Homo sapiens: one gene and its partner. The protein of the gene in region 1 interacts with the protein of each later gene in a biochemical or structural test. Each region holds a gene or a part of one and is shown in the gene's direction. Other genes may lie near its edges. The genes, in order: ST13 and CTRC.

Region 1 (7,277 bases):
TCATGGCTTTACTTGATGGTAATTAAGATCGAAGAGAGTGTCTTTGTTTTCTACTCCCTAGTACAGTACGTGGCACATGGCTTTTCCTAAATGTTGTAAAGGAAATGAACAGAATGCATTTCTACCCTCAATATAGAATTTAGAGTGTAGCAACCAATTTTTTGTACATGTGTACAAATAACCATAGCACAAAGCAGATTAGAAGGTTATCAAATTAAGAGAAATGTGAATGAAGTTTTATGTGGTCCTATGTGAGAAAAGTCTCTACACTGGTCCTACTTGATTGTGTAACATAAAAAAGCCTGTAGTGCCAAAGTCTAAGTGGCAGTTTTTGGCCAGAAAGTAGCTTGTTCTAAGCCTTGGAAGCATTAATTGAAATTTCGTACCTATGAGTTGGTGTTTTCTTCCATTAGTTAACTAGAATTTGGGATGGGAGAAACTAAATCTAGCTTATGAGTAAATCCTCTTTTTTTTTTAAAGTTTTTATTTTTTTTGCAACAATTTCTAGCTCAGAAAAATTGCAGGTATGGTACAAAGGAATTTTTTCTGAACTAGTTGAGAGTAAGCTGCCAACATTATACCCCAACACCAGTGAGTGTGTACTTCCTACAAAGTCTTTACAATGCAAATACTAAACTTAGGAAACTAATGCTGATGCATTTATGCTATCTAATCCTCAGATTTATGTGTTGCATTTAGTTGCCATGTCACGTAGTCTCCATTCTGAAACAGTTCCTCAGTCTTTCCTTGACTTTCATGATCTTAACAGTTTGAATGTTATTGGCAAGTTATTTTATAGACTTTCAATTTGGGTTTGTCTGGCCTTCCCTTAGGATTGGATTTAGCTTAATACATTTCTTGGCAGGAATATCACTTCCCAAAGTTAGTGTACTGTAAGTTATACTATGTCTGGATGTCACTCTAAATACATTCCTGACGCTGCATTTTGAAACTTAGGAAGAACACAGTGTAAGAAACCCTGTGTCTTCATTAAAATTTAACTACAAAGGACTGGTGATTACTGTGCTCTTTTGCAAAGTAGTGTTTCCATAGAAAAGAATTTTGTGGTGTCTATATGCCTGTTCCTTATCATTAAATCATTTTACTTTGCTGAATTGCAGATTAGGATGTTTTGGATCATATAATCTTTATGTTTGACATGGGAGCTATTCCATATTAAGGGTACTGTGTAACATTTTCTTCTATCATATTAAACATAATGGAAAAAGTAGGCACATTTTCTTCGTTTGAATGGTGCTTATAAGAAATTCCAAATTCTGTTTCTTTTCATTCCATCTGCTACTTTGCATTTATACTTTTGCTTCATATTGGGATTCTCAGATGATACTAAGGGAGTGAAAAGGCAACCTACAGGGTGGGAGAAAATATTTGCAACACATAAAGCTGACAAAGGGTTCATATGCAGAATACAGACAACACCTTCAAATAAAGAAGGACAATCTATTAGAAAGCTGGATGAGAGTTGAACTGTACAAAAAAGTCTTTTTAAATGACCAGTAAATATATGAAAAGGGACTCAACTGCAATGAGATGCCAGTAGGCACCTATCAGAATGGCTAAAAAATCTTTAAGATGGACAATAGCTAAGCATTGGCCAAGGCGTGAAACAATTGGAATTCTCATACATTGCTGATAAAAGTGTAAATTGATAAAAGAACTTCAGAAAACTGATGCCCATTTAAATTCAGCCTGCACATACCCTTATGACCACAAATTCCACCCAACTGAAATGAATGTAAGTGTGGATATGACAACTCTAGTTACAAAGAATCAGGCCGGGCGCAGTGGTTCATGCCTGTAAATCCAGCACTTTGGGAGGCCAAGGCTGGCGGATTACGAGGTCAGGAGATCGAGACCGTTCTGGCTAACATGGTGAAACCCTGTCTCTACTAAAACAAAAAATCAGCTGGGTGTGATGGCATGCACCCTGTAGTCCCAGCTACTTGGGAGGCTGAGGCAGGAGAATCGCTTGAACCCAGGAGGTGGAGGTTGCAGTGAGCCAAGATTGTGCCACTGCACTCCAGCCTGGGTGACAGAGCAAGACTCCATCTCAAAAAAAAAAAAAAAGAACCCTTTCTGTTTTCAAAGTTAATATATCCCCTTGTTTTACATAGTTAATGGCTTTTGTTGTTTGTTTTTAAGGCAAATTTTAATAATGTCTACGTTGCTTCCAACTGTTGTGGAGTGCTCTTAAGTCTATCAACCATTTTAGTCACTGGATTGTTGCAGGTAGCCCATATACTATAGGGTCTGCACCAAATGGAGCATGTAACGCTAATTCTTTGTAATTTTTCTCTTCTAGTTATTTGCTTATAATGAATTGTGTTGCCCTGAACTATTTGGGAAAGAAGAGTTTGTAGGGTCAGGAGGAAGTATTAATGGATGAGGTTGGGAGGGGTGTATAAGGAGAAAATCTATAATGTGATGGGCATGCAAATATAAGCAAGAAAAATTCTCATAGGTCTCAGTCACAGGACACAAACATTTTGAATTATATCATGACGGTATAGTTACTTCATAAACTGCATATTTGAATTTAATTGAACTCTTATTTCAAGTTTCAAATTTAGGATTCAGATATACCTACTGAGTTGAATTCTAAGTTAACAGCTTGTGCAAATGATTTTGTCATTGCATGTTGACATATCTGCCTCTTTTCCTCTGGGAAGAGGCACAGAGAAGCTATACATTATGTTTATTTGACTCATTGAGGCAAAGAAAGGGGTTCATTAGCCAGTAGCCTTAAAATAAATTTTAAGCTGGAAAAAATTTAACCATAATAATACCACAGCATTCAGATTAATTGAGAGTTTACTTTTAAATTTTGAAAAGGTAGTCATCTAAATGTCTAACGTTATTTTTTAGGTGTAAATACGTTGCGTGACAGTGAATTTTAATTTTCTAAACAAATATCTTTTTTCTCATCTTCTTCAAGCATGGGTGGTAAAGTACCACCTGCTACTCAGAAAGCTAAATCAGAAGAAAATACCAAGGTAAGTTTTAATTTCATTTGTATGTTTTGTGATAAAGTACTATAAGATTTCTTAGGGGTTGTTTTTAAACTGCTGCTCTCCAGTTATCACTCCTGATTTCCCCAAGATCACTTGGAAATAAGACCTTTTAAGACCTCTTTATCTTTATAACTTTGTAGACCCGAATTCTCTGGATTCTGATTTAGAACTGAGAATTTAGGGTTGGATGTTCACTGTTTTAGAATACATGACAATAAAAGTTACATGTATGGCCTGTAAGTGGTAAGCTCCGTGATGGTGTGCATCCGTAGTCTTCATCATTGCCTTACAGTGTGTCATATGCATTGTAGGTACTTTATTTATTATTTGCAGAGTAAATGAAGTATCCCAGGTCAGTAATTTAATTTTTTTGCTCTACTACCTGAGTGATATTTGTGAGTGTGAATCATGGTGTTGGGTTAGCATATTTGCTTAAAGGACGTGTAAGATTAGGAGAAGGTTACCAGTAGCTGAAGTTGAGAGACAGATGAAGGGGAACATACATGTTTAAGAATGTTTTCTTTTATTTGTTTGTTTTTTCTTTCCTGAGACAAAGTCTCACTGTGTCACCCAGGTCTGAGTGCACTGGTACAATCTCGGCTCACTGCAACCTCAGCCTACTGGCTTCAAGCGATTCTCCTGTTTCAGTCTCCCGAGTATCTGGGATTACAGGTGCATCCCACCATGCCTGGCTAATTTTTCTATTTTTAGTAGAAATGGGGTTTCGCCATGTTGGCCAGGTGGGTCTCGAACTCCTGACCTCAACTGATCTCTCAGCCTCCCAAGGTGCTGGGACTAAGGCGTGAGCCACCATGCCTGGCCCAGAATGCTTTCTTCATAATTTTTTATTTCTCTCTTCTGCCTTCATATCTAAAAGGCTTTTTTTTTTTTTGCAAATTTTCTGATTAGCTGTCTTAAATCGACAAGAAAATAGCTGTTTTATTATTTAGAAACTTAAACATTGTTATCTATTTGGATCTTAAAGTGGAAGTTATGTCTATTAAGAAGGAGAATGCGAAAAGGTAAGCAAAAGCCCAAAAAGTAGTTACCTTTTTTTTAAAAGGACCATTTATCAGAGTGGTATTTTCTGAGCCCTAGATATTTTGCTATTTGGCAAATGTGTATGAAGGCAAAATTATATTTAACCTATGTGTCAGCTGAAAATTTTTTGTAAGAAAAACATTCTAAACTAGAATTATGGCTTGTCTTTTCTTTTCAATATATTCTAGAATACCTAGACTTTGCACATTTTATAGGGACTCAACAAATATTTTGTGACAAGGTAGGTTTTTGGTTCTAATTTTTTTTTTTTTTTTTTTTTTTTTGAGACAGAGTCTCACTCTGTTGCCCAGGCTGGAGTGCAGTGGTGCGATCTCTTGGCTCATTGCAAGCTCTGCCTCCCAGGTTCACGCCCTTCTCCTGCCTCAGCTTCCTGAGTAGCTGGGACTACAGGTGCCCACCACCACGTCCGGCTAATTTTTTTGTGTTTTTAGTGGAGAAGGGGTTTCACCATGTTAGCCAGGATGGTCTCAATCTCCTGACCTCGTGATCCACCCACCTCGGACTCCCAAAGTGCTGGAATTACAGGCATGAGCCACTGCGCCCTGCCTTGGTTCTAATTTTTTAAGTAACAGGGAAGCAACCTAAAAATGGTTAACAATATATGGTTGAGTGAATAGATGAAGGTAGGCTGATAATGGTATATAATTTACAAGATACACAGCGTTGTTAAATGCAAAAGGCAAAGGATAGAGTTGTTTCATATATAGAGAGACTATCCTGCAATGGGATATACAAGAAACCACACTGGTTATTTATAGGATGGGAAGAAAGTGTTGCTTTCTATATGTCGTGCACTTTTAAATTCTTTGAATTTTCATTGTTTATTATTGTAATTCCACAGGTTCTTATTTGCAGTTCCAAAACTCAAAAACCCTTGTAAAGATTTTTACTAAATTTGGCAATAAAATATAATGTGAGTGGACATGAGGCTATTTATAATCTCTAAACTGTTTATTGTCAATGTTCAAACTTTATTTTGAACAGTTGTTTTTTTATTTTTGAGACACAGTCTTGCTCTGTCGCCCAGGCTGGAGTGCAGTGGCATGATCTCAGCTCACTGCCACCTCCGCCTCCCAGGTTCAAGTGATTGTCCTGCCTCAGCCTCCCAAGTGGCTGGGATTACAAGCGGGCACCACCACGTCCGGCTAATTTGTATTTTTAGTAGAGATGGTTTCACCGTGTTGGCCAGGCTAGTCTTGAACTCCTAACCTCAAATGATCCACCCACCCCAGCCTCCCAAAGTGCTGGAATTCCAGGCATGAGCCGCCATGCCTGGCCATATTTGACAGTTTATACATAGATTTGTAGAAATTAGTATAAATATTCGGTATGTTATTAAATACTGATAGTACTGTTTGTCTTCCCTTTGCTAGGAAGAAAAACCTGATAGTAAGAAGGTGGAGGAAGACTTAAAGGCAGACGAACCATCAAGTGAGGAAAGTGATCTAGGTGAGGAGACGGTAGTTAGTTTGTATTTGAAAACCTATGATGTGATACTTTGTTGATTTTTATTAAAGTGACTTAAATCAGCACTGTGTAATAGAAATATAATGGCACATATGAAACTTAGAATGTTCTAGTAGTCACATTTTAGAAAGTAAAAGGAAACATGAAATAAATTCAGATATTAATGGCATATTGGTTGAAATATTGACATGTGTAATCAATATTTTTTTTTGTTTTTTTGTTCTTTTTGAGATGGAGTCGTGCTCTTGTCACCCAGACTGGAGTGCACTGGCACAATCTCGGCTCACTGCAACCTCCACCTCCCAGGTTTAAGCCATTCTCCTGCCTGAGCCTCCCGAGTAACTGGGATTAGAGGAACCTGCCACCACACTCGGCTAATTTTTATAATTTTAGTAAAGACGGGCTTTCACCATGTTGGCAAGGCTGGCCTCGAACTCCTGACCTCGTGATCCACCCACCTTGGCCTCCCAAAGTGCTGAGATTACAGGCGTGAGCCACTGCACCTGGCCTCAATATTTGTTAATAATTTATTTTGCTTCTTTTTTTAATAGCATTCAAACTCCAAAGGGTATTTTACACATGTGGCACCCCTCAATTCAGGTTTTACATTTTCATTGATAATAAATCAGACTTCATAATGTTTGTATTAGAAAAAGTTGGGTTACATATTAAAGTTGTTCTAAGCATACTTAAAAAGTTTTCTTTTTTTTTTTTTTTTTCTTTTTTTGAGACGGAGTCTCACTGTGTCGCCCAGGCTGGAGTGCAGCAGTGTGATCTCAGCTCACTGCAGCCTCCACCTCCCAGGTTCAATCAATTCTCATGCCTCAGCCTCCCTAGTAGCTGGGACTACAGGCGTGTGCCACCAGGCACGGCTAATTTTTGTATTTTTTTTTTTTTGTAGAGACAGGGTTTTGCCATGTTGCCATGTTGGTCAGGCTGGTCTTGAACTCCTGATCTCAGGTGATCCACCTGCCTTGGCCTCCAAAGTGTTTGGGATTACAGATGTGAGCCACCATGCCCAGCCAAAAGTTTTCCCATAACTGAATTGAGTGCCAAAAAATAGTATTTGTTTAGTTCTTACAACCATGTTGATAAAACTGGTTCATATTTAGAAGAGTAGTTATCTGTGCTATGAGTTTGGTTGGTTTTTTGGCCACAAATTGACTAAATTTCTTCATGAATTTGGAAGTCTCTTATATCACAGAACCTGAAGAAAAGTACTTGAAATGTTTTAAATTTTGAATCAGTTTTTTTTTGTTGTTTTTTTGGGGTTTTTTTGGAAGACTTGAGTTTCGCTCTGCCACCCAGGCTGGAGTGTGGTGGCACAGTTTCGGCTCACTGCAACCTCTCCCTCCTGGGTTCAAGCGAGTCTCCTGCCTCAGCCTCCTGAGTAGCTGGGACTACAGGCGTATGCCACCATGCCTGGCTAATTTTTTTGTATTTTCAGGAGAGACAGAGTTTCACCATGTTGGCCAGGCTGGTCTCAAACTCCTGACCTCGGGTGATCTGCCCGTCTTGGCCTCCCAGAGTTCTGGGATTACAGGTGTGAGCCACCACGCCTGGCCTGAATCAAATTATCTTTGATATCATTAGAGGTCTTACATTCTACTGGCAGTTGTTTGAGTGCTAAATTGAAGATCTTTTACTTTTTATAAAATGCCTCTTTAGTCTTACTTTCTACCAGTTTCTAAAACTACAATAAATTTTTTAACCAAC
Region 2 (7,277 bases), on another chromosome or scaffold:
GTGAGGGAGGAAATCATGGATCTAGGAGAAGGGTGTTCCAGGCGGAGGGAACAGCCATGCAAAGCCTTGGAGGAGAGACCTGTCAGTATGGTTGAGAAATAACGCGGAAGCCGGTGTGGCAGGGGCAGCGTGTGCTAGAGGAGAGTGGGAGGTGAGCTAGAGAGGAAATAAGTGCAGGTCAGTATCAGGACCTTGGCTTTGACCCTGAGTAAGATGGAGCTATTGGAAGGGTTTCTGAGCAAAGGAGAGTTGTGGGCTGACATATTTTTATATATTCCATAAAATATTTTTAATATATTTTATAAAAAATATATATTGCAACATATTTCATTTTATATATTTCATATACACTTTTTTTTTTTTTGGTAGAGACAGAGTCTCATTTAGTGGTACCATCATGGTTCACTGTAGCCTTGACCTCCTGAGCTCAAGCAATCCTCCCACCTTAGCCTCCCGAGTAGCTGGGTCTATAAGCACACGCCACCACGCATTCCCAGCTAATTTTTCTTCTTGTTTTTTGTTTGTTTGTTTGTTTTTTAACTTAGAAGCCCAAACCTCACCATAAGTTTTCTATTTTTTGTAGAGATGGGGATTTGCCATGTGGCTCAGGCTGGTCTCAAACTCCTGGCCTCAAGCAATCCCCCCGTCTCGGCTTCCCAACGTGCTGGGATTACAGGCATGAGCCAACGCACCTGGCCGGAGATATTTTTAAACCCACACTGCTGGGTTCAGAATAGACAGGAGTAGGCCAGCGTACAAGTGAGAGATAGTTAGATGGATGCCGCAACTGTGCAGGCAAGGGCGGTGGAAGCTTGGATGAGTTTATTCTCACAGCCGCCCTGGGAGTAAGTTCCAGCATTGCCTCCCCCTTACAGATGAGGGAACTGAGGCACAAGGCTACACAGCCAGGAGCAGCAAAGTCACAACATGAACCCAAGTCCCTTGACCCCAAGTCCCAGGCCCTTCCCCTCACCCTGGGAAAGGACAATGGGAACACTCTCTTCCCCCAAAATGAGTCCCACTAAAGCCCCGAGCTCCCTCTCTATCCCACTGGCTGGCAGGACCAGGGGGCCACCCTGACCTGGACCCCTTCCTCTGCCCAGCAACACCCGGACCTACCGTGTGGCCGTGGGAAAGAACAACCTGGAGGTGGAAGACGAAGAAGGATCCCTGTTTGTGGGTGTGGACACCATCCACGTCCACAAGAGATGGAATGCCCTCCTGTTGCGGTGAGTGACAGACTGCCCATCCCACAGCCACTGGGGGCAGTGTGGAAGGAGGGGTCCCCAAGACGGAGCCGCAGAGCCTGTCGCACCCCATACCTGACACCCCATCCTCACCCTGGAAAGCCAGCAAATGACTGTCTTACACAAAATGGCAAAATGCTAAGTGGAGACAAATACCCCCTCATATCCCCCTCATTGGCCAAGACTCCCAGGAAAGTCCACAAGGAAGGCCCCCCACAGTGTCTCTCCAGAGGCTGGGCCAGCGCTCACCTTTATTGAGTTCCTACTGTATGCCCACATTGCAATAGACACTTTATATGCCATCTGTTATGTAATCCTCACAACAGCCCTGGACAAAGAACCAAGGCTCAGAGAGGTTAAGAACTGTGTCCCAGGCCACACAGCCCACTTCGTGGCAGAACTAGGAATCAAACCAGGTCTGACTGGGCCGGCCAGCTTTTATTCTTGTAACATGAAAATATTAAAACTGGCATCTGCAAGTGCCGTCTTTTGGCATTAGAGTTCTCAACTTGCTATAGCCTCTGTTTCAATGGACCCACAGCCAGCAGTGGTTTCGGACACTTCCACTCTCACCTCCCTCTGTTAACCCTTTCCCGAGGTGATGACATGTGAGAAGAAGCTATGTCAACAGTGCGGGTGATCATGTTAGATGGTGAATCGTTTGTCCTGATATTCCCAAAGGCCAAGAAGAAGCTGGCAGTCAGGATGTTTGTGAAGGACCCCTGAGCACCCTGGGCCTGACTCCCAACTCACAGCCCGAGCCCCTTAGCCTGAGCTTGTGGGGCCAGGGCCCTCCTGCCCACTCACCCTCTCCACTTTGGATTCCAGCAATGATATTGCCCTCATCAAGCTTGCAGAGCATGTGGAGCTGAGTGACACCATCCAGGTGGCCTGCCTGCCAGAGAAGGACTCCCTGCTCCCCAAGGACTACCCCTGCTATGTCACCGGCTGGGGCCGCCTCTGGAGTGAGTATCGTCCCTGGCAAATCCTGAGAGCCTTCCTGAAGGAAGCAGGACGTCACCCACATTTGTCCACCACTTTGCCTTTTTGCCTTCACATTTTCATGTCTTTGTAAACTTTGTAACAATAACAGCTAATATTTACTAAGCACATACCATGTGACAGACACTCTAGCAAGGGTCTCTGAGAGATGTGGTAAAGTTTAGACGAATTAGAATTTGTCAAGTGCTCAGAACAGCACTTGGCACATAGTAAGTGTCACATAAATAAACTAAAATAAACCATTAGGGGTAGGGGATGACATCTGTGGTATACCGTATGCCCAAATAGGTCCCAGCTGAATTAAAAGTTAAATGCAAATCATGAAACTATGGGAGACTTAGAAAATGCAGATCACTATTTAGAAAATCCTGGGGGAGAAGTCAGCTGTGGCGGCTCACACCTGTAATCCCGACATTTTAGGAAGCTGAGGAGGAAAGATCACTTGAGGCCAGGAGTTCAAGACCAGCCTGGGCAACATAGTGAGACCCTGCCTCTACAAAAAAAAAATTTTTAAATAGCAGTGTATGGTGGTGTGTACCTGTAGTCCCAAACTACTCAGGAGGCTGAGGTGAGAGGATCATTTGAGCCCAGGGGTTTGAGGCTGCAGTGAGCTATGATCTTGCCACTGCTGTCCAGCCTGAGCAACAGAGTGAGACCTTGTATGTATCAAAAAAAAAAAGAAAGAGAAATAGAAAATCTTGGGGGTGAGAAAGGCTTTTTAATGGGTGACAGCAAAGACAGAGACCCACAGGAAATTATTGACAATTAAATCCCCAGAATCCAACTTAAAGACAACTCAACTCAACACTGTAGCTTCCTTCTGCCGGCAGCCTGCTCCTGACCCTCTGGGACCTTGGCTTGCCTCTTGATGAAGGGCAGGTGTGTGGTCCGCACACTGTCTCAGCCGGCGCTCCCCTGGGTCCTGTCCCAGGCATCTGCTCCCTGAAGGCCTGGGGAGGGGCTGGACTGGGCTTCCCGGCTGCCTCCCTGGTCACTGCTCACTCTCTCCCCAGCCAACGGCCCCATTGCTGATAAGCTGCAGCAGGGCCTGCAGCCCGTGGTGGATCACGCCACGTGCTCCAGGATTGACTGGTGGGGCTTCAGGGTGAAGAAAACCATGGTGTGCGCTGGGGGCGATGGCGTCATCTCAGCCTGCAATGTGAGTGGCTAGGTTCTGCACCTTGTCCCTACTCCAAGTGGCCAAGTGGATGTGGGCAAAGGGGGGTGCGATGGACCAAACCCTTCTCCTGGGAGGAGACTGAGCGAGCCCTGGCTGGGCCCAGCAGGCTCAGGGTAAGCCCATCACCCCCCATCACTGTGGTGAGAGCATGAGCATTGAGCACGAGTATCTGAGTTCAAGCCCCAGTCCCACCATTTATGAGCTACGTAAACTTGGGAGGGCCGTTGAACCTCTGACCTCAGTTTTTCCATCTGTAAAATGGAGTTACAGTAACCACTTCACAGGGTTAGGACTAAATGAGTTTAAAGGACAGAGAAGAGGCTTCACTGAAGTCTCTACACATGTTCCTCCATGCATTTGCTCCACCAGTCCAGGGAGACCAGAACCATAAAACATCTAAGACAATCAGGGAATGTCCTGTTTTCAAACACACAACCCTCTCCCCATTCTCACCCTCCTTCCTCACCTTCCCAGGCCTCTAGCACAGCTGCCTGCATCCTCACTGCTCTGAGTAGCTCACAGAGTCTTAGATAAGGAGACCTGAACAGCTAGGGAAACTGAGGCACGGAGAGGATTAACATCATCCCAAGATCACACAGCAAACCAAGAGCTAGTCTGACACCCCAGGGCCTCCCAGAATAAGGCCAAGGCAGCCGCAAACCACATTTCCTCTGCCTCCCTCACCATGGGCAGGCTGAGGCCAAATCTGTCCACTAACTAAGGCTGAGAAGCCAACCCACATCCCCCACCCCAACCCAGTCCTGCTTCCCAAGACTTCCTCTGGGGGGGGGCCTGGTGGCTTATGCCCTCCCGGTCTGGTGCAGGGGGACTCCGGTGGCCCACTGAACTGCCAGTTGGAGAACGGTTCCTGGGAGGTGTTTGGCATCGTCAGCTTTGGCTCCCGGCGGGGCTGCAACACCCGCAAGAAGCCGGTAGTCTACACCCGGGTGTCCGCCTACATCGACTGGATCAACGAGGTGGGTGCTGCCTCCACAGCTGTCCCTGCACCTGTCAGCCCCTCCCCCTCACTCACCCATCCCCTCACTCATTCACTCATTCATGCGTTTATTCATTCATTCATTTATTCACTCATTCATGCATTTATTCACTCATTCATGCATTCATTCATTTATTCACTTATTCAGTCACTCATTCATGTATTTATTCATTTATTCATTCACTCATGCATTCATTCATTCATTTATTCACTTATTCATTCACTCATTCATGTATTCATTCATTCATGCATTTATTTACTCATTCATCCATTTATTCACTCATTCATTTGCTCATTCAGTGATTCATTCATGCACTTCTTCACACATTCACTCTCTCATTCAAGTAATATTGGTTGAGTGCTTCCAGTAGCAGGCCTTGAGTTGGGTGCCAATAAGGAAACAGTCATTGACTCCTCCATCCATCCATTCACTGCCTTCATCAAGCACTTATGTCCCCATCCAGGCCCCACACCAGTCTCCCCCAAAAACTGACCCCCTGAGGGTATGGCCCAGCAGAGGAGAGGGATGGTGTGGATGGCCATTTCTCATCTTGAGAGTAGGGGAACAGAGGGTCACCCTGGGCTGGGGGCTTCCCCATTGGGGACAGAGTGTGTTCCAAGACCCATTTGCACAGTGGCCTGAAATGCTGAGGGCCTCAGACCCCTTGAACAGGGACAAGGCTGGCATGTGAAGGCCGGGGGCTGCTGGCCATGCCCCCATGGACCCACCCTCCGGGCAGAGCCCTGTGCCACCCTAGAAGGTGGCACAGCCCTGAGTCTCTCACACTGTTCTCTGCTCCTCCAGAAAATGCAGCTGTGATTTGTTGCTGGGAGCGGCGGCAGCGAGTCCCTGCAACAGCAATAAACTTCCTTCTCCTCGGGCCACCTGGATCCTTGATTTGTGCAGCTTCTGTTGCTTCCCTCCTCTCTGGTGCTGCCCCTTTCCACACTATGGAGCCAAAGAGAGACCCCACTCAGCCAGTTTCCCCCACCCTGCATTAGACAGGTGGGGAAACAGAGGCCGGGAGAGAGGGCCAAGGAAGGAGCCTCCTGGGGCATTAATGGGAGGCAGGGGGCTGGGGTGGAGAGCCCAGGGAGTCCTGCGTGAAGCCGGAGGGGATGGGAGTGAAGGACGCATCAGACACCTTCCCCGCTCCATCTCACAAGCTGCGAACAGGTGAGACCCTGATGAAATCACTCGCTTCTCCGATCCTACCTCCACCGAGGGGCCTGGCAGGTCCTCACAGCCCCCCAGCAGCAGGTGGAAGACAGGGTCTCCCCAAAAGCAGCGTCCCCCAGGCCAGAGAGACCAGGCCACAGGAGGATGGCCAAAGCTCAGGGACAACCACTCCTGGGGAAGGGGCTCCCTAGCAGGGACCCCCCACCCCCACCCCGCAGCACAGACCCCATGGCTGCTGTTGGCAGGGGCTCTCTGCTTTGAGAAGTGTTTAGTGAGCCAGCCCCTGTGTCCAGTCCTGTGCTGGGCATGATGAGGGTACAGGAAGAGGAAGAGACCCCAGCATCATCCTCAGGAGACATACGTTTGAAGAAGGCAATGGTTTCCACACAGAATCACAGTGGTCAGAGCTGGATATGCTTTCATTGCATTAGACAAGTGGGGAAACTGAGGCCCAGAGAGAGGAAGGAGTTGGGATAGCTGGCAATGCCTGATCCAGGAGAAGAGAGTTCTCCTGAGGCTGACAAGAGGCCAAGAGGAGCCAGAGATGAGATAGACCCAGTGTCCAGGGAGGGACATGCCAGTGGGATCAGACCCTGATGACAGGGGCAGCCAGAGATGAGAGAGATCCAATGTCCAGGGAGGGACATGCCAGGGGGATCAGACCCTGATGATAGGGGCCTCTGGCCTGGCCTGCTCCTGGGAATGTCCTGTTCTGTGGGGGTGCCCCCAGCCCAGCCTCTGGACCCCTCGCTGGAGAGCCCTCGGCTGCAGCTACCTCAGACTGGCCCAAGAGTTGTCCCTTTTCTCCACCAGACTTTGTCCCCTGGGAGTGGGGACCATGGTGTGACTCCCACACCCCCATGATGCCAAGGCAAGTCTCAGGAAAGACTTGACTTACTCAACAAGCAGTGGGAGCTACAGGGAGCCCAGCACCACCCAGACCCGGGAATCCAGGATGGGGGTACCCCAGCTGTGCAGGAGACAGACCAGTAAATAGATCATTAAATTCCCTGGTATACATTTGAAAACAGAAATACAGACCAGAAGCATAGAAACAGGACACCTGAAGCAGTGTCAGTTGGCGGGAGGAATCCAGGATGGCTTCCTGGAGGTGATGATGCCCAAGCTTGGTCTTAAAATTTGACTAGAAGGTACCCAAGTACAGAACGTAGTCCTTCTTAAGTTTGCTTAATCTAAACTTCATTCCCACCTATCCTCTTCTTTTTTTTTTTTTTTTTTTTGAGACGGAGTCTTGCTCTGATGCCCAGGCTGGAGTGCAGTGGCACAATCTCAGCTCACTGCAACCTCCACCTCCCAGGTTCAAGTGATTCTTCTGCCTCAGCCTCCCAAGTAGCTGGGATTACAGGCACGCACCACCATGCACAGCTAATTTTTTTTTTTTTTTTTTAGACAGAGTCTCGCTCTCTCACCTGGGCTGTAGTGCAGTGGTGCCATCTCGGCTCACTGCAAGCTCCGCCTCCCAGGTTCACGCCATTCTCCTGCCTCAGCCTCCTGAGTAGCTGGGACTACAGGCGCCAGCCACCATGCCTGGCTAATTTTTTTTTTTTTTGTATTTTTAGCAGAGACGGGGTTTCACCGTGTTAGCCAGGATGGTCTCGATCTCCTGATCTCGTGATCCACCTGCCTCGGCCTCCCAAAGTGCTGGCATTA

The links.
Region 2: of the proteins of ST13 (region 1) and CTRC, one has a biochemical effect on the other in vitro, tested with the Homo sapiens proteins (one study listed by BioGRID).

What each region holds. Positions count from the first base shown.
Region 1 is NC_000022.11:40,846,560-40,853,836, reverse strand, and holds part of ST13 (hsc70-interacting protein), read left to right. Parts: intron 1-2,956; coding exon 2,957-3,014; intron 3,015-5,467; coding exon 5,468-5,543; intron 5,544-7,277. UniProt on the Homo sapiens protein: One HIP oligomer binds the ATPase domains of at least two HSC70 molecules dependent on activation of the HSC70 ATPase by HSP40. Stabilizes the ADP state of HSC70 that has a high affinity for substrate protein.
Region 2 is NC_000001.11:15,441,344-15,448,620, forward strand, and holds part of CTRC (chymotrypsin-C preproprotein), read left to right. Parts: intron 1-1,103; coding exon 1,104-1,229; intron 1,230-2,075; coding exon 2,076-2,212; intron 2,213-3,262; coding exon 3,263-3,408; intron 3,409-4,253; coding exon 4,254-4,406; intron 4,407-5,231; coding exon 5,232-5,246; coding exon of another isoform or gene 5,247-5,428; 3' UTR 5,429-7,277.